4 separate regions of the Homo sapiens genome follow, and all the other regions are linked to region 1. The links come from fine-mapping of genetic effects on gene expression. A gene starts in region 1. Each other region holds a variant in brackets. All regions are shown on one strand. Distances are between the middles of the regions.

Region 1 (5,151 bases):
ATGCTCCTACTGCTCCCTGGGCCAACCCCTAGCATGGCTCTTATTTGTCCCTCATTCACTCAAATATCTACTTAAGCACCTGCTCCATGATCTGTATAAGGCAATGAGCACCAGATGGGGAGTGCAGAAAGCCAGGCTCAACTGCACAGCTTTGCCACCAACTGGCTGTGTGACTTTGGACCCATCGTTCCTCACTGAGCCTCAGTTTCCCCGGTAAAGTGGGAAAGATTCTGCAGCTCAGCCTAACTTCCAGGGCTTCTGTGAGACTGGGCGGGATGTGAAAGCATGCTGTAAACACTCAGGGTGAGTCATGGTTATCAGAACCTAACCCCTCTGTAGCCTGAGCTCATTTTTGTCCATCCCATCCCTGGAGTCCCCCTCTCTCCCAGGGGGCTGGTAGCCTGTTGGGGATGAACTTGGGAGCTCATGCCTTCCAAGGGGTTGGCACCTGGGTGAGAAATTGGGCAGGAGCACAGCCTACAGGGATGAGAACTTTAAACAAAAACAGCCCATAAATCTTGCCATATAGGGGCAGGGGCCTGGCATGGCTGGGGCCAAGAAGGCATGCCAGGCTGTTCTCTGAGGCAACAGGAGTAAAAGATTTTACGCTAAAGTCATCAAGAAGCCACTGGAAGCACAGCGGGAGGAGGTGGAGACAAAGAACACGGAGCTAGGGGACTAGATACCTGGGTTCTGCTCTGTGTTGCTCTGTGACCTCAGTCATGCTCCTTCCCTTTTCTAGGCCTTAACCTCCTATCTGTATAGTGGGTGCGTCAGCCCAGGTAGTACCCAAAGGCCCTTTCCAACTCAGACAGGCTGTGCCAGCTTTACTTGCCCTTCAGAGCTTTGGCTGTGCCAGGGACAGGCAGGAACAGCTGGTAAGTCTCTCAGAAGGAGCAGGAGCCAAAGAACCTGTGCTTACTGTGACCTCCTCTTCCAGCTTGTGGAAGGGTCAGGCTCTTCCCCGTTTCCTCCACCTCTAGGTAGATGGAATTCACCCTTGGTCCACTTTGCAAGCTACAAGGTTGACACAGGTGCAGAGAACACAGACTCTCAGATGCTTAGGGATCATCCTGCTCATCACTCCCCATACAGGGAGAAACTGAGACCCAGGGAGACACAAGGGCTTGCTTGGGGTCACCCAGTATGTTTATGGCACCACCAGGACTTACACCCAGGGCTAATGTCTGCCTACCACTTGCTCAGTTACAAGTCTCAGCCAAGGCTCAGGTCTCTCCGCCTTGTCATCCCTGTCAGCCAGCCCCTTCCTTCTACTGATAGAGCCAAGCCTCAGTTTCCCTGTTGGAGTGAGTAAAGACATGAGGGTTTCTAGGTCAGGAGTTGGTGAGAATTTCAATCTGGTAATAAAGGGAGAGCAAGGAAAGCCAGGAGGTGTCAGAGAAGGGAGTAGAATCCTCCAGGCTAGGACTACTGTTAGGCAGAAAAACCTGTACTCAGGGCACAAGCAAAGCAGGAGCAGAGGGAGGACTAAAGTTCATTGCAAAACTATTAAACACTGTCACAGTTTGGGGCCTCTCAAGGTCTCAAGGGGGAATGATGATAAAGTTTAAGGGATCACCTAGTCCCACCTGGCTAGGGGGCAGGTAGTGGTAAGAAAAGGGGCCAGAATTTGAGGGTCCTTCTTCCCCTCTGCCTCACAGTGTCCCCTGAGGAGGCTATCTTTCTAGCTCCAGGCTCTGACCTTCTGGGCTCGTCAGACCCCAAGGGGCAGCTGGTCTCACTGCAAGAAACCTGAGAATTGTCCCCTGGGCCCTGACCCAGCTCCAAGGCCCCTTGGGGGAAGGACAGGAAGGGAGGAGAGGGCCACAGAACGCAGTAGATCTCCTCCCTCTTTGGCCCCTCCCAGCTACCCCAAGGGCAGCCCACACTCACCAGCTCTGGGGCCTGCAAGAGCCCTAAGACCAGCGCCTCAAACTTTAAAGCGTCATCACCTGGGCATATTGTTAAAAGGCAGCTTCTGTCTTGGCAAGACTGGGCCTGAGCCTGAGATTCTGCATTTCTGACAGGTCCCCAGGGATGCTGATACTGCGAGTCTGTGGAACACTCTTCGAGCAGCCCTGAGATTATCAGCCTTTAACCCCCGGGGGGAGGAAGCCGAAGGCCCAGAGAGGTCAAGTCACTTGTCCATGGCCACACAGCGAACAGCCCCAGACCGAAAGCAGAGGGCACCTGCCACAGACACACGACATCTCCCCACCCGAGGCAGCGGGAATCAGCTGCCTTTCCCTGGCCCGGGTGCCGTGTTTGTAAACTCGGCTGCTTGGTGCGGCTCGGGCCGGGGTAAAGGGCGCCTCCCAGCAGAGCCTCCCTCGTCTCTGAGCTGGCCTCTCCAGGTTCTCCGTCCGGTATCCCGGGCCGACCAGAGAGAGCCCGGGGCGCCGAGTCCTCTGCGGCGGAGCGATTCCGCACTCCCCTCTCCTCTGAAAGCAAACTTCTCCGCCGGCGCCCTTTACCTTTTTCGGGGGTTTGCAGCTGCTCAGCCTGCTGTGTCTGCAGCCCATCCTCCTCCGGGGGCTCCCGGACGCCGCTTCCCAACTCCGGGGCCCCCAGAGGAGCCTGCGATCCGGGCCCCGCTGCCCGCTCCGCGCCCGCCGGCTGGGGCTGCCGGCGAGACCCTGAAACTGAACCTGGAAGCGCTGTCTTGAGCCTGAGCTGGGGCGGCCGCCCGCCGTAAATACCCGAAGAGCGGGGCCTCAGTGTAGCCCGCAGGGCCAGCGGCGCCGCCACCAGAGGCAGGTGACCAGAATCCTTCTAAATAATAGGAAGCTCTGGTCAGGGCAGAAGAAAAGAAAACCTCAAGGAGCAACAGATGCTTTTCCGAACCCTCAGCTAAGAAAGGGCCGGGGGAAAAAATAATTAAAGCAATTATTTGATAAACTAACAACTATCATTCATTGAGGGCTGTTTTTGTCCCAGTTGTTTTATACATTTTATTTCTATTTCTTGCCATATCAGTGCAACAAAGGTATTACTTCCTCCATTTTACAGGTGAGGAAAATGGTGTTCAGAGATGCAACATGATTTGCCTAAGGTCACATGGCTAGTAAGTTACCACAGCCCAGATAGAATCCAGTTCCTTTTTTTTTTTTTTTTTTGCCGCTATCATAGTTCACTGCAGCCTCAAACTCCTGGGCTCAAGCGAGCCTCCCAGCTCAGCCTCCTGAGTAGCTGGGACTACAGAGGCTCACCACCATACCCAACCAAATTCTTTTCTTTTTTCCAGTCTGATTTTGAACGACCGCCCTCAAGCGATCCTCCCACCCTGGCCTCCCAAAGCGTTGGGATTACAGGCATGAGCCACTGCACAGAATACAGTTCTAACTCCAGAACCTAAACTTTGACTCAATGGCCTACAAATAAATCATAATACTAAGTTTATTGTATTTATTTATTTTTGAGACAGAGTCTCGCTCTATTGCCCAGGCTAGAGTGCAGTGGCACGATCTTGGCTCACTGCAACCTCTGCCTCCCAGGTTCAAGTGATTCTCCTGCCTCAGCCTCCCCAGTAGCTGGGATTACAGGCATGCACCACGACACCCAACTAATTTTTGTATTTTTAGTAGAGACAGAGTTTCACCATTTTGACCAGGCTGATCTCAAACTCCCAACCTCAGGTAATCCGCCCGCTTCGGCCTCCCAAAGTCCTGGGATCCCACACCTGGCCAATAATACTAAGTTTAATTTTAATGCCTCCTCACTTCTGGGCTGATAGTTTTTTCCACCTCACAAGCATCTGTAATATTTGACTCTATCCATCTTGGATAGATGTTATTCATCACAACAACCTCTTGAGGCAGGCCAGGTATGGTGACTATGGGACATAAAATGTCAGTGTCTAGGAAAAGGAGCTTTTGTTTATCTTCTCTTTGTTATTAGCTGAGGTTTCTGAAATGGCAATGCAGGAAAAAGATAACCAATTTTGAAAATCAGTGTGTATGCCTATTTGCGTGTATATTGGAATATTAAAGTCAGGCCCAAAACTCTTGGAAAGGTGTGCTGTGAAAACGGCTTAGAGTCATGAATGGGGAAAGAATATGAGACCTCAAAAAAATTGCTCCCTCCATAGGGTACAAAACCAATTGCAAAAGTGTGTAAGAAAGGAAACTAAGGAAACGTGTTATTAGGTTCTCAAAAGCAAGTATAATAGAGAATGGTGGCTCACAAAGTGTGATTCCCAAATCAGCAGTGTCAGCACTACCAGCCGCCTTTGTTGGAAATGCAAATTCTCGGGCCCCACCCCTGGCCTAAACTCTGGGGATGGGGCTTAGGAATCTATGGCTTCATAAGCACTCCACTCATGTCTGGCCTGGGCTAAAGTTTGAGAACCCCTGCCATAGGACGTGCTCCACAGGTACTGAAGAAACAGGATATACTTAAATTATACTAAAATTAACAATGTTTATTGGAACAGTGCTCATGATTAAAAACAAAGAACCCAAAACAACCTAAACAGCCAAGAAAAGAAGGTTGGTTAAATACATTATGCTATATCCATAAAAATAGAATGCCACATAACCAGCAAAAATACTGATGAAGATGAATTTTTTGTGTTACAAAACATAACAAACTCATTTTCATTAAAAAAAAAAATTGAGTGACTACCACTGTATTGGTGAGATTTTGAAATTTTAAAACAGTTTTTTTTTTTTTGAGACAGGATCTTGCAATATCACCCAGGCTGGAGGGCGGTGGAGTGATCATGGCTCACTGCAGCCTCAGTCTTCCAGGCTTAAGTGATCCTCCCACCTGAGCCTCCCGAGTAGCTGAGACCACAAGTGCCTGCCACCAAGCCTAGCTAATTTAAAAAAAAAAAATTTTGTAGGCCAGGCACAGTGGCTCATGCCTGTAATCCCAGCACCTTGGGAGGCTGAGGTGGATGGATCACCTGAGGTCAGGAGTTCGAGACCAGCCTGACCAATATGGTGAAACCCTGTCTTTACTAAAAATACAAAAATTAGCCGGATGTGGTGATGTGTGCCTGTAGTTTCAGCTACTCAGGAGGCTGAGACAGGAGAATTGCTTGAATCCGGGAGGCAGAGGTTGCAATGAGCCTAGATTGTGCCATTGAACTCCAGCCTGGGCAACAGAGCGAGACTCCCTCTCAAAGAAAAAAAAAATTTTTTTTTGTAG
Region 2 (5,151 bases), 23 kb before region 1:
GTTTAGACCCAGGGACTGGAGCTCTAGAGAATGAGATTGATCTATCTATCTATCTATCTATCTATCTATCTATCTATCTATCTATCTATCTATCTTACCAAACTGGAAAGTTTGATATCTATCTATCTATCTATTTATTTTTAATAGTGACAGCATCTTGCTATGTTGCCCAGGTTAGTCTTGAACTCCTGGGCTCAAGCAATCTATCCACCTTGGACTCTCAAAGTGCCAGGAATACAGGCGTGAGCCACAATGCCCAGCCAAGAATGAGACGTTAACCACTGTGCTGTAAGATCTTTTTGTCTAATCTACAGTTTCCAAATTTTCTGTGATGATCACCTTTGGTGATATAAGAGGAAAGAAAGTCATTTTTCAAAATAATCAATCTAACAATAAATAAGAGCTACCATCATCGTGGGGATGGAATATGTGTATTTAAAAATTCTTCTATTTGTCTGGGTTTTCCAAATTTCCCTTAATAAATATGGATTGCTTTTTAAATGGAAAGAAAAAAATACCTCTCAAATAAGGAAAAAGAAAGGTTGATGCCAGCCTCTTAAATCCATGCCCCAAAGGAAAAGTCCATCAACCCTCTAGGGCCAAGGATCCTGTAGATTTGAGTCAATTGCTTGTGGATCAGACAGACAGGGAGGGAACAGTGGGAGTGCCCAGGTGAACTGGGCAGGTGGGGCCAGAAGGAAGCACCCCCCACCACCTTGGCCAGTGGAACATCTCTACCCTTACCTTGCAGGGCCTCTTCATTCTTTCCTTCCAGGACCCTTTGCTGCTCATCCAGTCTGTCTCGAAGCTCTAGCTCCCTTTCCTTCTCCACCTGGGGGCAGAGAGTCCCGGGCAGGACTGAGATTGAGCAGGATCAGCACAGCATCTCTTATCCCCTCACCTGGGCCTACGTGGAACTTGGTGACCAGAGTCCTAACCCTTCCTCTGAGGGATGGGAATGACACGCCCAGAAAGGACACAAGACTTCCAAGACACAGCAAGCGTGGCAGAATTTGCCTTCTTTAGGGTTTAGCAGGGGGTTCCCATGTAATTATCCACATGGAAAAGGATTTAGGAGTATTCTAATCCTGATGCTTCCTCAAGGCAGGAAGCCTCCCATGGTGTTTCTCTGCTTGCGTAAGGCTTACTGTTTCAAGTGACCTCCAACTTCTACCATCAGGTCCCAGATCTGCCCTCTGGGGTCACACAGAGCCAGACTGTTCCCTCAACCCAGGCAGCCCCTCAGAGATCTGAGCATAGTGGCCCATATTCCCAACATTTCTCTTCCCCAGGCTGAACCCTCCCAGCCATTCTCATTGTCCCCCACTTGAGATGTTTTCCAGTCCCTTTGCCACCTGTAAGGTACAGCTGATGGGGCATATCCAGAGGCAAGGCATGACTTAAATTAGGCATTCTAGCCCCAGCATACCACTGAGTTCCTGGGTAATGAGCTCCCTCCACTGTATAATGAAGGGACTCAACTTGACAATACCTGGGGCCCTTACAAGTCTCAAGGTTAAGGATTCCACAGGTAATGGTCAGGGCCAAATGACATTACCATGGTAACTCTACCAAAACAAACTAAAGACCAGCAGCTGCATACAGTTAACTTACCTTTCATAAAAGGTGTGTTTCTGAAAAATGCGTCTAAGCTAAAACCATTTTAATGTGTGTGGGGGCACTTGCCACAGCCTTCCACCCAGCGAACACCTGAGGGCAGGGTCTGGACCCGATTTCTCCCTGTACCCCTGGCAGTGCTGAGGCCGCACCCTCCCCGCACATAGTAATCTCCCCCAGCAAGTCGACTGGGTGAATAAAATCTAGCAGAAAATCTTTCAGTAATAAATAACCATGTGATTTAATAGAGTGATTAGTTTATAACTACGGAGACTTTTTTTTTTTTTGAGATGGATTCTTGCTCTGCCACCCAGGCAAGAGTGCAGTGGTGAGATCTCAGCTCACTGCAACCTCTGCCTCCCAGGTTCAAGTGATTCTCCTGCCTCAGCTTCCCAAGTAGCTGGGATTACAGGCATGTGCCACCAGGCTGGGCTAATTTTTGTATTTTTGTAGAGACGGTGGTCTCGCCATGTTGCCCAGGCTGTTCTCGAACTCCTGACGTCAGGTGATCTGCCTGCCTCGGCCTCCCAAAGTGCTAGGATTATAGGCATGCCTGGCCCAGATCTATCTTAAAGCAGTGACTTTAAATTTCAGAATTTTGAATATTTACCCTGAACATATTTCATATTTATAATTTAAACTAAAGAAAATTTAGAGAAAACTTGTGTACACCACCAAATCTTTCCTGCTGCTCTACCCATTCCCTCTGGTAAAGGAAGAAATGGAGGCAAAGAGAGGTGAAGGGTGAGTGACCAAGTTAGAATGAGGAAAAGGAAATCCTGGGCTGCAGGTTACATTCAGTCATCCCATCACTTTAGTGTCCTTCAATCTAGAATTGTTCCCCAGTCTTTCCTCATGTTTCATGGCCTTGACATTTGACTAATATAGGCTGGAAATTCTGTAGAATGTCCCTCAATTTTCATTTCTGGGTAATTTTAAAGCCTCCGTGTCATCCCTTTAGAGAAGCCTTCTCTGATCCCACAGCCTTGGTTAAGGGTTCTATTATGTCCTTTCACGGCACTGTAAACTTTTCATAGCACTTATATTTGCAGTAAGTATTTCTGTGTAATTGTGTTTAGCATCTGATGTCCCATCTCAGTCATATAAGCTAAATTATGCTGCCATAACAAACAATGACAAAGTCTCAGTGGCTTAAGACAAAATGTTTATTTTGCCCTCACTACCTACCCATTTTGTGTGGCAGGGAGCTCTGCTGCCAGGGATTATCCAGGATTATCCAGGGATAATCACCCAGAGATCAGGCTGATA[G/C]AGCGGCCATTACAACAGTCCCGTCACTTAGCTAGACAGAAAGACCTTGAGGGTCTTGAACTGGCAACTAAATGCTTGCCCTAGAAGTGACACTGGTTCTTCTTTCTATAACGCATCAGCCAGAACGAGTTCCGTGGTCCCACCCAACCATGAGGTGGGCCCAGAAAGGCAATTAATCTAGTGGCATCAACAGCTTTTACTCTTCCCAAATAGACTCTCAGCTTCGTGAAAGCAGCTGCCAGCTCTGCTTGTTTTAACCAATGTGCCCAGCACACAGTGCCCTGATAAAAATATGTGTTCAACAGATAAAGGACTCCCTTCCTGGTAAAATGAGTAAGGGACTCTTACAACAGCAACAAAAACCTAAGGTAGGCACTCACTCTGGGATTCACCAAAGTTAGCTGAGCAGGAGAAAGACAGGGGGTGGGGGCACCTGGACTTACCTGTTGTGCCCATTTCTTCTTTTCCTCCTCATGTTGCTGGAGAATTCTGGTTATATCCTTCTGGTGCCGCTCAGCCTCCTCTGATGCACAGAGCTGGACAGTTATAGCTAGAGATGAAAAAGCAAAAAAATAAAAATAAAAAAACTCACAGAGTGGAAGTACAGTCAGAGCTGGCAGAGAGAGTGTGGGAAATGGGGCTAAGGGATGAGAACCCTGGTCTCTGCCTCAAGAATGATTTCGGGTGGGACCAGTCTCCAGAGACAGCCCCTCGAGTCTCTTTGGACTTGGAGATCCTCTTTCAAGGAATAAGCCAATGGTCTCATTTTGTCTTCTGGTCTCTGCCTCAAGAATGATTTCGAGTGGGACCAGTCTCCAGAGACAGCCCCTCGAGTCTCTTTGGACTTGGAGATCCTCTTTCAAGGAATAAGCCAATGGTCTCATTTTGTCCTCTGGTCTCCCTGTTCTACCCCATTTTTTAAAAAATTAGTCGCTGGCCAGACATGGTGGCTCACACCTGTAGTCCCAGCACTTTGGGAGGCTGAGGTGGGAGGAGCACTTGAGACCAGGAGTTGGAGACCAGACTAGGAAACATAGTGAGACCCTATCTCTAAAAAAAAAAAAAAAAAAAAAAAAGCTGGGCATGATGGCATGCACCTGCAGTCCCAGCTACTAGGGAGACCAAAGCAGGAGGATGGTTTGAGCACAGGAGTTCAAGGCTGCAGTAAGCTATGACTGCATCACTGCACTCCAGTCTGCGCAACAGAGCGAGATCCTGTCTCTAAAATAATAATAATAATTTAAAAATTAGTTGTTGATACTTAATAACTGGGAAGCTTTTACTTAATAATTCTGATTTCCAATTTTTCTTGAAGAATCCAAAGAAGAACTGGCAATGTATGCCTTCATGTCAACCAGGGGCTGGAGCCAGAAGCAGCTGCCTCCTCTTTGGCCGGCCAGGATAGGGCTCTGCAGTTGGCTATAGTCTTCACCTCCTGCTGTTATTAAAAATGTATACAAAGGGCCACATGTCATTTGCTTTACCTGCTGGGGCCCATGAGCATCTGAGTTTGTGGCCCCTCACCTTTAGCGTCTCCTCAGCTGGTAGTAGAGGGTGCTACTTGAGAGCAGGAAGGAAACACAAACAGGAAGTCTAGCCCCTGCTTCGGGAAACTCCAAAACAGGACCTGCCAATGCCACACTGAGTCTATCAGATACTAGGTATGACCTAAGGCAGTGGCCATCCTCTCTGTGCCTCAGTTACCTAATACATGGGATCAGGATAATTATGGCACCTACCACATGAGTGAGGCTGAGATGATTAAATCAGGAAACAATGGCAATAAAAATAGTAAAAGCAGGATAGGAGGACTGAGAGCTTACCATGCCTGCAACATGTCCAGCACTGTTCCAAGTGCCTCAGAGGGATGACTCACCTGCTCCTCACAGCTACCCTATAGTCGTGAGTAATATTATTACCCCCATGCTACAGACGAGGAAGCTGAGGCTCAGAGGAGTCATGCAACTTGTTCAAAGTCACCCAGTTCAAAATTAAGGGAGCAGGGATATGAACCTACACAATCTGTTTCCACAGCAAATACTCCTAACTACCACCTTATCCTGCTTGCTTGTGCACAAAAGGAAATGTAGGCCAGGCGCGATGGCTCACACCTGTAATCCCAGCACTTTGGGAGGCCGAGGTGAGCAGATCACTTAAGGTCAGGAGTTCGAGACCAGCCTGGCCATGGTGAAGCCCCGTCTCTACCAAAAATACAAAAAAATTTAGGTGGGCATGGTGGCAGGCGCCTGTAATCCCAGCTACTCG
Region 3 (5,151 bases), 32 kb before region 1:
CAGCTTGAATAACTGTGTGTTTCTCATTAGAAACCTTAGAGACCAGAAGAAAAAAATTTAAAAACTGCTGGAAAATGTTGATGTTCATAATGTTGGGTTGAGGTCTACCATTTTAGGATGTGTTTTCTGTTTGTTCTCGCTGATCTTTATCCTCTGTTTTCTCTTTCCTGCTTTCTTTTGGAGTACAAAACCATAACAAAAAGCCCAGAATCCCATATGCAGTGAAAATATCCTTCAGGAAAGAAGATTAAATCGAGACATTCTCAGATGAAGGACACTTAGAATTCATCACCAGCAAACCTGCTCTAAAAGAATTGCTAAAGGAAATTCTTCAAATGAAACCAGAGGGAAACTTGAAACTTGAAACTTCAAGAATGTAGGAAGAGTAACAGAACTGGTAAAGACCTAAGTAAATACAATAGACTGTTCTTCCCTTGAGCTCTTTAAAATATGATTGATGATTAAATGCAAAAATTATAACCTTGTCTGATGGGGCATTAGATGTATGTAGATGTAATACATGAGATAAATGTAACAAAAATGGGAGAGAACAGAGGAACCTACATGACGGTAAGCTTTTTACATTCCATTAGATGTGGTAAAATAGCAATTTCAGGCCGGGCGTGGTGGCTCACACTTGTAATCCCTGCATTTTGGGAGGCCAAGGTGGGTGGATCATCTGAGGTCAGGAGTTCCAGACCAGACTGGCCAACATGGTGAAACCCGGTCTCTACCCAAAATACAAAAATTGGCTGGGCCTGGTGGTGGGTGCCTGTAATTTCAGCTACTTGGGAGGCTGAGGTAGGAGAATCGCTTGAACCCAGGAGGCAGAGTTTGCAATGAGCCCAGCTCATGCCATTGCACTCCAGCCTGGGTGACAGAGCAAGACTCTGTCTCAAAAAAAAAAAAAAAAAAAAGGAACTCTAAGTAGATTGTTAAGTATATTGTAATTCTTAGAGTAACCATTAAAAAAAATACAGAGATACAGTAAGAAAGACAATAAATAAGTTAAAATGGAACACTAAAAAATGTTCAAATACTCAAAAAAAAAGCAGGAAAGGGAAAACAGAGGATAAAGATCAGCGAGAACAAACAGAAAACACATCCTAAAATGGTAGACTTCAACCCAACATTATGAACATCAACATTATCAATAACAACAGTAAATTAAATGGCTTAAACATACCAAATAAAACACAGAGTATGTCAGAATGGGTTTTTAAAAACCCACCTGATGGGATCATTCATACCCCAAACCTCAGCATCATGTACTATACCCGTGTAACAAACCTGCATGTGTGTCCTGAATCTAAAATTAAAGTTGAAATTAAAAAAAAAAACCACCCACCAACTAACTACGTGCTATTTACAAGAAACCCACTGTAAATAGATGTTATAGGTAGGTAATAAGTAAAAGGGTGGAAAAAGAAACACTAATCAAAAGAAAGTCATAGTAGCTATATGATTTGCAGATAAAGAACTGAAAGGAGACATAGACAAATATGCATTATAATTGGAGACTTCAACACTCCTCAGCATTCCACATAAAACAGCCTGAAAATCAGCAAGAATATAGAACTGAATACTAACATTAACCAAACTTTATCTAATTGATTTATATCTAAAATACTCAACCCAACAATAGCAGAATACACATTCCTTTCAAGTATACATGAAACAAGATCGACCATACCCTGAGTCATGAAACAAACCTTAACAAACTATAAAAGCAGCAAAATACAAACTATGTTCTCTGACTGTAATGCAATCAAACTGGAAATCAAATAACAGAAAGAGAACCAGAAAATCTCCCAACACTTGGAAATGCACTTCCACATATTCAATGCCAGAGAGGAAGTCTCAAGGAAAATAAGACTGAAAATATTTTGAACTCAACAAAATGAAAATAAAACCATCAATATGTAGGATGCAGGTAAAGCAGAGTTTAGGAGAAAATTTATAGCTTAAATGTTTATATTAGAAAAGGAGAAAGGTCTCAAATCAATATTCTAAGCTGAAGAAATCAGGAAAAGGTATCAGGCCCAGTGACTCACACCTGTAATCCCAGCACTTTGAGAGGCGGAGTCAGGAGGACTGCTGAGACCAGGAATTTGAGACCAGCCTGGGTAACATAGAGAGACCTGCCTCTGTTAAAAATTTAAAAATTAGCTGGCTAGGTGTGGTGGGGTACCTATAGTCTCAACTACTCAGGAGGCTGAGGTGGGAAGATTGCTTGATTCCAGGAGTTTGAGGCTGCCCTGAGCTATGATCATGACACTGTACTCCAGCCTGGGAGACAGAGCAAAACCCTGTCTCAGGAAAAAAAAAAAAAAAAAAAGAATGAAAAGAAA[T/TA]AAAAAAAAAAAAAAGCTAACCAAATATAAAGCAAGCACACAGAAGGAAGGAAATGAAAATAACAGAAACCAGTGAGATGGAAAATGGTAAAATAAGGGGGGTGGGTGGGGAAATCAATGAAACCAAAAGCTGGTTCTTTGAAATAATTAATAAAATTGATAACCTCAAGCAAGACTGACAAAGAAAAGAGAGAACATACACATGACCAATATCAGGAATGAAATATCACTACAGACACAGCAGATATATGAAATGATATTAAGGAAATATGCTGAACAATCCTATGCACCTAGATTCAACAACTTAGATGAATGTAACAATTCTTCAAAAAAAAAAAATGACCAAAACTCACCCAAGGTGAAGTATATAACCTGAAATTCCTTTAAATATTAAAAAGAAATTGAATTTGTTGTTAAACACTTTGAAAGACATGCCCAAGCACAGATTATTTCATTGAAAAATTCGATTAAACATTTAAAAACGATATAACACCAATTCTATATAATCTCTCCCAGAAAGAGAAGATGAGGGGACATTACTACATGGGGCAAGCTTTATCCTGATACTAAAACCAGATAGTGTAAGAAAACTACAGGCCAATATTCCTCATGAACATAGACACAAACATTCTCAGTAAAACATTAGAGGATCAAATTCAGCAATACATAAAAAGAGTAATATAACACAACCAAGTGGAGCTTATGCCAGGAATGCAAGGCTAGTTCAATGCAGTCAGCCTTCTGTATTTGCAGGTTTCCCATCCTCAGATTCAACCAAGTGTGGATAAAAAAAATTTGAAAAAATAAAAATAAAAAATACCAAACAACAATAAAAGATAATACAAATAAAAATACAGTCTAACAACTATTCACCTTACTTTTACATTGTATTAGGTATTATAAGGAATCTAGAGATGATTTAAAATGTATGGAAGGATGTACATAGGTTATATGCAAATAATACGCCATTTTATATAAGTGACTGGAGCATTTGCAGATTTTGGTATCCAAAGTGGGTCCGAGAATCAATTCCCCATGGATACCTAGGGATAACTATATTTGAAAACTCAAACAAATGTAATCCACTATATTAACCATCTAAAGAAAAACCAGGCCAGATGCGGTGGCTCACACCTGCAATCCCAGCACTTTGGGAGGGAAAGGCCAGTGGTTCATTTGAGTTTGAGACCAGGCTGGGCAACATGGCAAAAACTCATTTCTACAAAAAAAAAAAAAAAAAAAAAAAAATTAGCTAGGCATGGTGATGTGCACTATAGTCCCAACTACTTGGGAGGCTGTAGTGGGAGGATCACCTGAGCCCCAGAGGTGGAGGCTGCAGTGAACCAAGATAGCACCACTGCACTCCAGCCTGGGCATCAGAGTGACATCCTGTTGGAAAGAAAAGAAAAGAAAAAAGAAGACAGGAGAGGAGAGGAGAGGGAAAAAAGAGGAAGAAAGAAGAAAGAGAGAGAGAAAGAAAGACCACATGATTATATGGATCTTAGATCTAAATATAAAACCATAAGGCTTTGGAAGAAAACATTGAAGAAAATCTTTGTTACCTGGGGTTTAGCAAAGAGTTCACAGACATGACATAAGAAGTATAATCAAAGAAAAAAATAAATTGGACTTTATCAAAATTAAAAGCTTGGCTTTGTGAAAGACATTATTAACAGAATGAAAAAAATCACCCCACTGGCTAGGAGAAAATATGTGCAAATACAAAGAACTCTTGTCCAAAATATATAAAGATATCTCAAAACTCCACAGTAAGGACAAGCAAGTTAATTTAAATGGGAAAAAGACCTGAACACACATTTGACCAAAGAGGATATGTAGACAGCAAATAAGCACATGAGTTGTTATTGAAATGTAAATTAAACCTATGGTGAAGATTACTGCACACCTATTAGAACAGCTAAAATAAAAAACCAGTGACAGCAAGTATTGGCATGAAGTAGCAACGGTATAACTCATACATCACAGATGGTGATATAAAATAGTGGTCACTCTGGAAGACAGTTTAGCTGTTTCTCATAAAGCTAAACATACATTTATCATATGACCTATCCCACTCCTGTGTATTCACCCAAGATAAATGAAAACCTATGTCCACACAAAGCCTGCACATGAATGTTAGAACAGCTCTATTCATAATTGCCTCAAATGTCCTGCAACAGTGAATGAGTAAACAATGGAATATAACTCCACAATGAAAATGTATGAATTATTGAGATATGCAACAATTGGAATGAATGTCAAAGGCATCGTGATGCATGAAGGAAGCCAATATAAAAAATCATATTGTATTATTTCATTTATGTAATAGCCTAGAAAAGACAAAGCTACAGAGATGGAGAACAGATCAGTAATTGCCAGGGGTTAGGGTGGGAGAAGGATGTGAATACAAGGGTATTTTGAGACGGCTTTTTGGGAGTGATAAAACTGTTGTGTATCCTGATTGTGGCGATGGTTACAAGAATCTATACATGCGGCAGGGCGCGGTGGCTTACACCTGTAATCCCAGTACTTTGGGAGGCCAAGGCGGGTGGATCACGAGGTCAGGAGTTGAAGACCAGCCTGACCAAGATGGTGAAACACTGTCTCTACTAAAAATACAAAAATTAGCTGGGCATAGTGGCACGTGCCTGTAATCCCAGTTACTCGGGAGGCTCAGGCAAAGAATTGCTTGAACCCGGGAGGCGGAGGTTGCAGTGAGCCGAGATCACGCCACTGCACTCCAGCCTGGGTGACAGGGCGAGCCTCCATCTCAAAAAAAAAAAAAAAAAAAAGAATCTAT
Region 4 (5,151 bases), 97 kb after region 1:
TTTCTGGCTCTAAACTTCCCAGAGAAGGGATTTATGGCAGCTATATTTGTCAGGAGGTCCCGCTTACATCAGCAAAAGAAGATTAGACAAAGTTTCTTTCTGCAGCTTCTTTTTGTTCAGGCATTTTTAGCTTAAAATAATCTTTATGCTACCGAGGTGCATTTTGGATCCTTACATATCCAACAAAACTTAAGCTCTTACTTAATAAATAACACTAAATAACAGTGCTGGGAACCATTCAAGCTGTTTGGAATATATCAATGTACAAACTGTCAATGTTTGTACTATCAAAATTTGTATCAATGTACAAATTTTTTAGAAGTCTTCTAAAATGCCTAGCATTTTAATAAATAAAAAATAATATAAATAATATAAATAAATAATACAAATTTATTATTTATTTTATATATAAATAAAATATATTTTATATATTTTATCTATAATAAAAATAAATAATAAATAAAAATATAATAATTATTTATAAATATTTATTTATAAAATATATTTTTATATATAATAAATATTTTATATATATAAAAATATAATAAATATAAATAATATAAATAAATAAATTATTTTTTAAAATGCCTAGAATTTTAATAAATAATTAACATGAGTATAAGAACCTTTTACTTGCAAACAATTAGAATATGAAATTATTTATAATACAAAGAGATCTTCAGTTGGAAGAAAATCCGGGAGGTGTCTTTAAAGAAGTGTCTTCTCCAGGTTTTATACACATGTCAGAAAACCCCTAACAAAGAAACACGAAAAGCTAAAAATTTTGAAATTATATTTTTTTAGCAGGACGTTTTACAGACCTGGGCTTTTACATTTTTTATTATATTTGATGAAAAATGTTCCTGGTCACCAATAAATCCCAGGAGCCTTGAGCAGGCCTCCTTTGGAGGAGTGTGGTAGAACAGAACAGGTCTGGAAGGCAGGAGTCTGGTTCATTCTTGTATGGCCTTGCCCAAGTCCCACCCCTTCCTCAGCTTGTTTCCTCAGCTGCAAAATGGAGATGAAGGCTACTATCCTTTTAGGTATTGTGATTCATTCTGCATAGGACATAAAAGTCTTCAATGAGATTTTTCATGTAAAGCATTCAGAAAAGTTATCTTTGCTATTACTCCAAGTTATTTACTCATACATGCTAATTGACAATGCATGAAGAAGTGTAGTGTAGGCTTAAGGGATTGTTATCTTTATACTGTGGGGCAAATTCCTTGATCTGTCTGGAATATGTAAGATACTGGATAGTTCCTGCATTCAAGGTCAAATTGAGAACTAATCACTTCAAAAAAAGAAAATCAGTGTCGAATGAATGCTGTGGGCTGGCCTAGAAAAGTGAAAATCAACAGCCACTTCAGCCAGTCTCAGGGGATCCAGCAGCTGCTGCAGGCCAAGATGCAGCCACTGAGAAGGTGTCCAAGTGTGAGCAAAAACATAGAGGCTGAAGCAGGCCAAGGAAGCAGCTGAGGCTTCAACTGCTGAACTGAAACTGAACAGCACTGCCTGCAGAGGGAGAAAGAGTTCAAGACCAAGGAAGCTGCAGCCCTGGAATCTCACAGCAGCCTTGGCACTGAAGTGGCACAGGAGGGTCAGAAGAAGAGGACCAGCCTCCAGAACTACTTCCAGCAGAATGGGGGTGAAGGCTTGGCTAGTCTCTTGGCTTTTGTCTGTGACACCTGGACAGAAATCCATGAAAACTGCTGCATAAATGAAGAAGAGTGGGAGAAAGAAGCGCCTGTACCACAGATTGGCATTTTAGATGCCCTCGAGGAATATGCAGCTTGAGATATATTCTTATGAAAAGGCATTAAATGATTTCTGTATATTATATAGCAGGTCCCTTCACATCTCAGAGAATATAAAATCTAGCTTCTTTGTACAGACTTAGAACTTATCTATAGATTTTCTTTTTACATCGTATTTCGTAGAAATTTAATGGGTATATGTCATGTTTTCCCATGCCTATTAGCTGAAGTAACATATGTATCAGTGTATCAATGTTGACTTTTTCTTTCTTTTTTCTAGTAAAAAAAAGTTCTTTGAAGAAGAAAGAGATTAATATTTTTTTTTTCCCTGTAGTGCTTTCTTGAATGTCAGGATTCTAACCATGAAAAAGTAGTAAATGGTTATTTGTAATCTGTGTGAAGCAGCAGCCACCCTTAAATTAGTCCATTCCTGCTAATGGTTAGAATAATGAATACTAGCATAACTGTTTGGGCTGCTTTTAGTTTCTCTGAATCAAAATTACTAGATGGTAGAATTCAAAAACTCGTTACATGTTATTACTCGGTGTACTGATAATTATCTAAAAGTAACACTTTGTTATGCAAAAAAAAAAGAATTTCCTAAATTTCCATGGACAGATGAATGGATAAAGAAAATGTGGTTTCTACGTACAGTGGAATACAATTTGGCCTTAAAAAGAAGACACTTTTGCAATTACAATCAAAAGGCATCTTAGGGACAGCTGGGCCACCTCTACTCTACACAGGAATCTCTAGCCATCTCCTTCGGCCTCTGGTGGAATACTTGCAGAAAGGGGTACTCCGGGTCATGGGGGCTGCTGTGAGCCAGGGAGTGGGAATGACCTCAGCCAATAGGCAAGCACAGGACCGTCCAGGGGTCAAGGAGCCCCAGCTGATTGTTGCCGATGGGGAATGTGATCCCAGCCTTGCCCAATCATTTTATAGTAGCCCCACCAAAAAATTTTAAAAATCTGCATTTGTATGGAGATTGCCCACATTTTAAATGTTGGCCCACTTTATACAACATTGTGAGGTTCAAACAACACCTGTTGCCAAATTAGAGTCCCATTTTCAATGTCTGCCCTGGAGGTGAAGGGCACTGGCTCTAGACTTACATGACTTGAATTCAAATCCTACCTCTGACACTTTCTGGCCAATTATTAATCACTCACTGCCTCAGTTTT[C/G]TCTTTCATAAAGTAGGGTTTATCATAGTTCTACCTCATGATAATTGTTGTGAGGACTGAATAAAATATTATGAAATCTAGACTAGAAAGAGCTGAACACAGTGCCTGGCACACAGTAAGTGTTCAATACATGTCAGTTCTTATGATTTATTTATTTATTTATTTATTTATTTATTAATATATTTGAGACAGGGTCTGACTCTGTTGCCCAGGCTGGAGTGCAATGGTTCAATCTCAGCTCACTGCAGCCTCAGCCTCCTGGGCTCAAGCAATCTTCCCACCCTAGCCTCCCAAGTAGCTGGGACTACAAACATGGGGCACCCATGCCTGGCTATTTTCTTTTCTTTCTTTTTTTTTTTTTTTTTAATAGAGATGGGGTTTCACCATGTTGTCCAGGCTGGTCTCAAAACTCCTGAACTCAAGCAATCCGCCTGCCTTGACCTCTCAAAGTGCTGGGATCACAGGCATGTGCCAGAGTGCGCAGCAAGTTCTTACAGTTATTGTTTGATAAGCTGTGTCAATCCCTTAGGCTGAACACCAACAAATCTGTCTAATTAGGTACATGTAAGAATGGGGTTGTTTAGATGAGTGAATACTTGTAAAGCTTTAAAATGGTCCCTGGAATACAGTAAGTGCTCAGTAAATGCTGATTGTCATGACTGCCCTCTACCATCTGACTGATTCTTTTTTTTTTTTTTTTGAGATGAATCTTGCTCTGTTGCCCAGGCTGGAGTGCAGTGGCACGATCTCGGCTCACTGCAACCTCTGCCCTACATGTTCAAGTGATCCTCTTGCCTTGGTTCTTGAGTAGCTGGGATTACAGGCACGTGCCACCACGCCTGGTTAATTGTTGTATTTTTAGTAGAGACAGGGTTTCACCATTTTGGCCAGGCTTGTCTGAAACTCCTGACCTCAGGTGATCCACCCGCCTCGGCCTCCCAAAGTGCCAGGATTACAGGTGTAAGCCAATGCATCCGGCCCATCTGGCTGATTCTTTATAGCCCTCAGAAAAGATCAGCAGGAACACTGCACTCTCCTTTCTACTCACATGTCAGGCAGACCATGACGAGGCGAATGGACAGATCCAGAGGCAGTGCCCAGCGTGTTGACACCCGGGAGATGGCAAAGGGGATGATGATTTCTGCAGGGACGTAGAACTGCAGGGCATAGGTGCACAGGATGCCGGCAATGTAGAGAAGCTTGACAGACTGGTACAGCCTGCAAGACAAACCACAGAGCTGCTCTCCACGGCCACTGTGTTCTGACACTGGCCTCCTTGGAACATTAACCTCTGACCTTGGGACAATGACTTGGGCTTTTGTTTCCCTTTCTGAAAATGACTGAGAGGGACCTTCTAAGAATCAAGAGGGAGTCACAGCAGAGCATGCAGTGAAAATAGTGCGGTTCTGGATTCAGTGGAAACAATGGAAAGGGTCATTTCTAAATGAAATAAAAACCATCTTGAGCTTGAGTATGTATTGCACCTTCGCAAATCGCTACCATCTGATGCTCAATCTTATGTTTTAAAAAAGAGAGGCTCAGGCTCAGGCCAGATACTTTGCCCAGGGAGACACAGATGATAAGTGGCTAAGACCAAAAGCCCTGGATCTAAAAGACTCTAGTCCTTTGTGATCAGTCCTTAGGAATTATCTGGATTCCCCAAAGCTCTAGGCACATAACTGTTGCCTCTAGTTGAGAGAACTGCAGAATCCCAAATCCTTGGAAGAAGAGACAGTTTATAAATAGGGTTGTGTGGAAGTTAGGGGGAGTCAGGGTGGAATATAAGGAGAAACAGGGGTACTTGCCAGCCTCAAGCTAGGGGCAGAGTGTGTGTGAGGCTTCAAGGGATATTGAGTTCTATCTAAGTTTTTTTTCTATTTGATCTATTGAGATGTGACTGTTTTCCTTCAGTCCACTAATGCAGTAGATGCATTTCCATGTTTAATAAATGTGTGATGCTGGGCACAGTGGCTCACGCCTATAATCCCAGCACTTTGGGAGGCCGAGGGCGGTGGATCACCTGAGGTCACGAATTTGAGACCAGTCTGGCCAACATGGCGAAACCCTACCACTACCAAAAATAAAAAATTACCCACGTGTGGTGGTGCACACCTGTAATCCCAGCTACTTGGGAGGCTGAGGCAGGAGAATTACTTGAACCCGGGAGGTAGAGGTTGCAGTGAGCTGAGATCGCACCACTGCACTCTAGC

What was found. PIP is the estimated chance that this variant, and not a neighbour inherited with it, causes the effect.
Region 2: its variant is the best candidate, but not a certain one, in a credible set for the expression of CCDC69 in lung (GTEx, PIP 0.69).
Region 3: its variant is the best candidate, but not a certain one, in a credible set for the expression of CCDC69 in whole blood (INTERVAL, PIP 0.69).
Region 4: its variant is the best candidate, but not a certain one, in a credible set for the expression of CCDC69 in whole blood (INTERVAL, PIP 0.69).

What each region holds. Positions count from the first base shown.
Region 1 is chr5:151,221,449-151,226,599 of GRCh38, forward strand. CCDC69 (coiled-coil domain containing 69) reads right to left here and starts at 2,644. Exons shown (of 9, transcript NM_015621.3): 1 at 2,475-2,644. The coding sequence starts at 2,522. LOC105378230 (a long non-coding RNA gene) reads left to right here. Exons shown (of 4, transcript NR_160730.1): 4 at 2,028-2,902. RefSeq lists enhancers at 427-646, 2,067-2,176, 2,197-2,396 and silencers at 2,517-2,596, 4,080-4,374.
Region 2 is chr5:151,198,253-151,203,403 of GRCh38, forward strand. CCDC69 (coiled-coil domain containing 69) reads right to left here. Exons shown (of 9, transcript NM_015621.3): 3 at 3,330-3,436; 4 at 745-832. Among named protein-coding and RNA genes, the nearest start is that of CCDC69, 23 kb to the right of the region's middle. The variant G/C (reference allele first, on the strand shown) is at 2,887.
Region 3 is chr5:151,189,769-151,194,919 of GRCh38, forward strand. The region is part of intron 4 of CCDC69 (coiled-coil domain containing 69); the gene reads right to left. Among named protein-coding and RNA genes, the nearest start is that of CCDC69, 32 kb to the right of the region's middle. The variant T/TA (reference allele first, on the strand shown) is at 2,352.
Region 4 is chr5:151,318,057-151,323,207 of GRCh38, forward strand. It overlaps SLC36A2 (solute carrier family 36 member 2), which reads right to left. Exons shown (of 10, transcript NM_181776.3): 9 at 3,990-4,159. It also overlaps the pseudogene ATP6V1G1P5. Among named protein-coding and RNA genes, the nearest start is that of SLC36A3, 17 kb to the left of the region's middle. The variant C/G (reference allele first, on the strand shown) is at 2,942.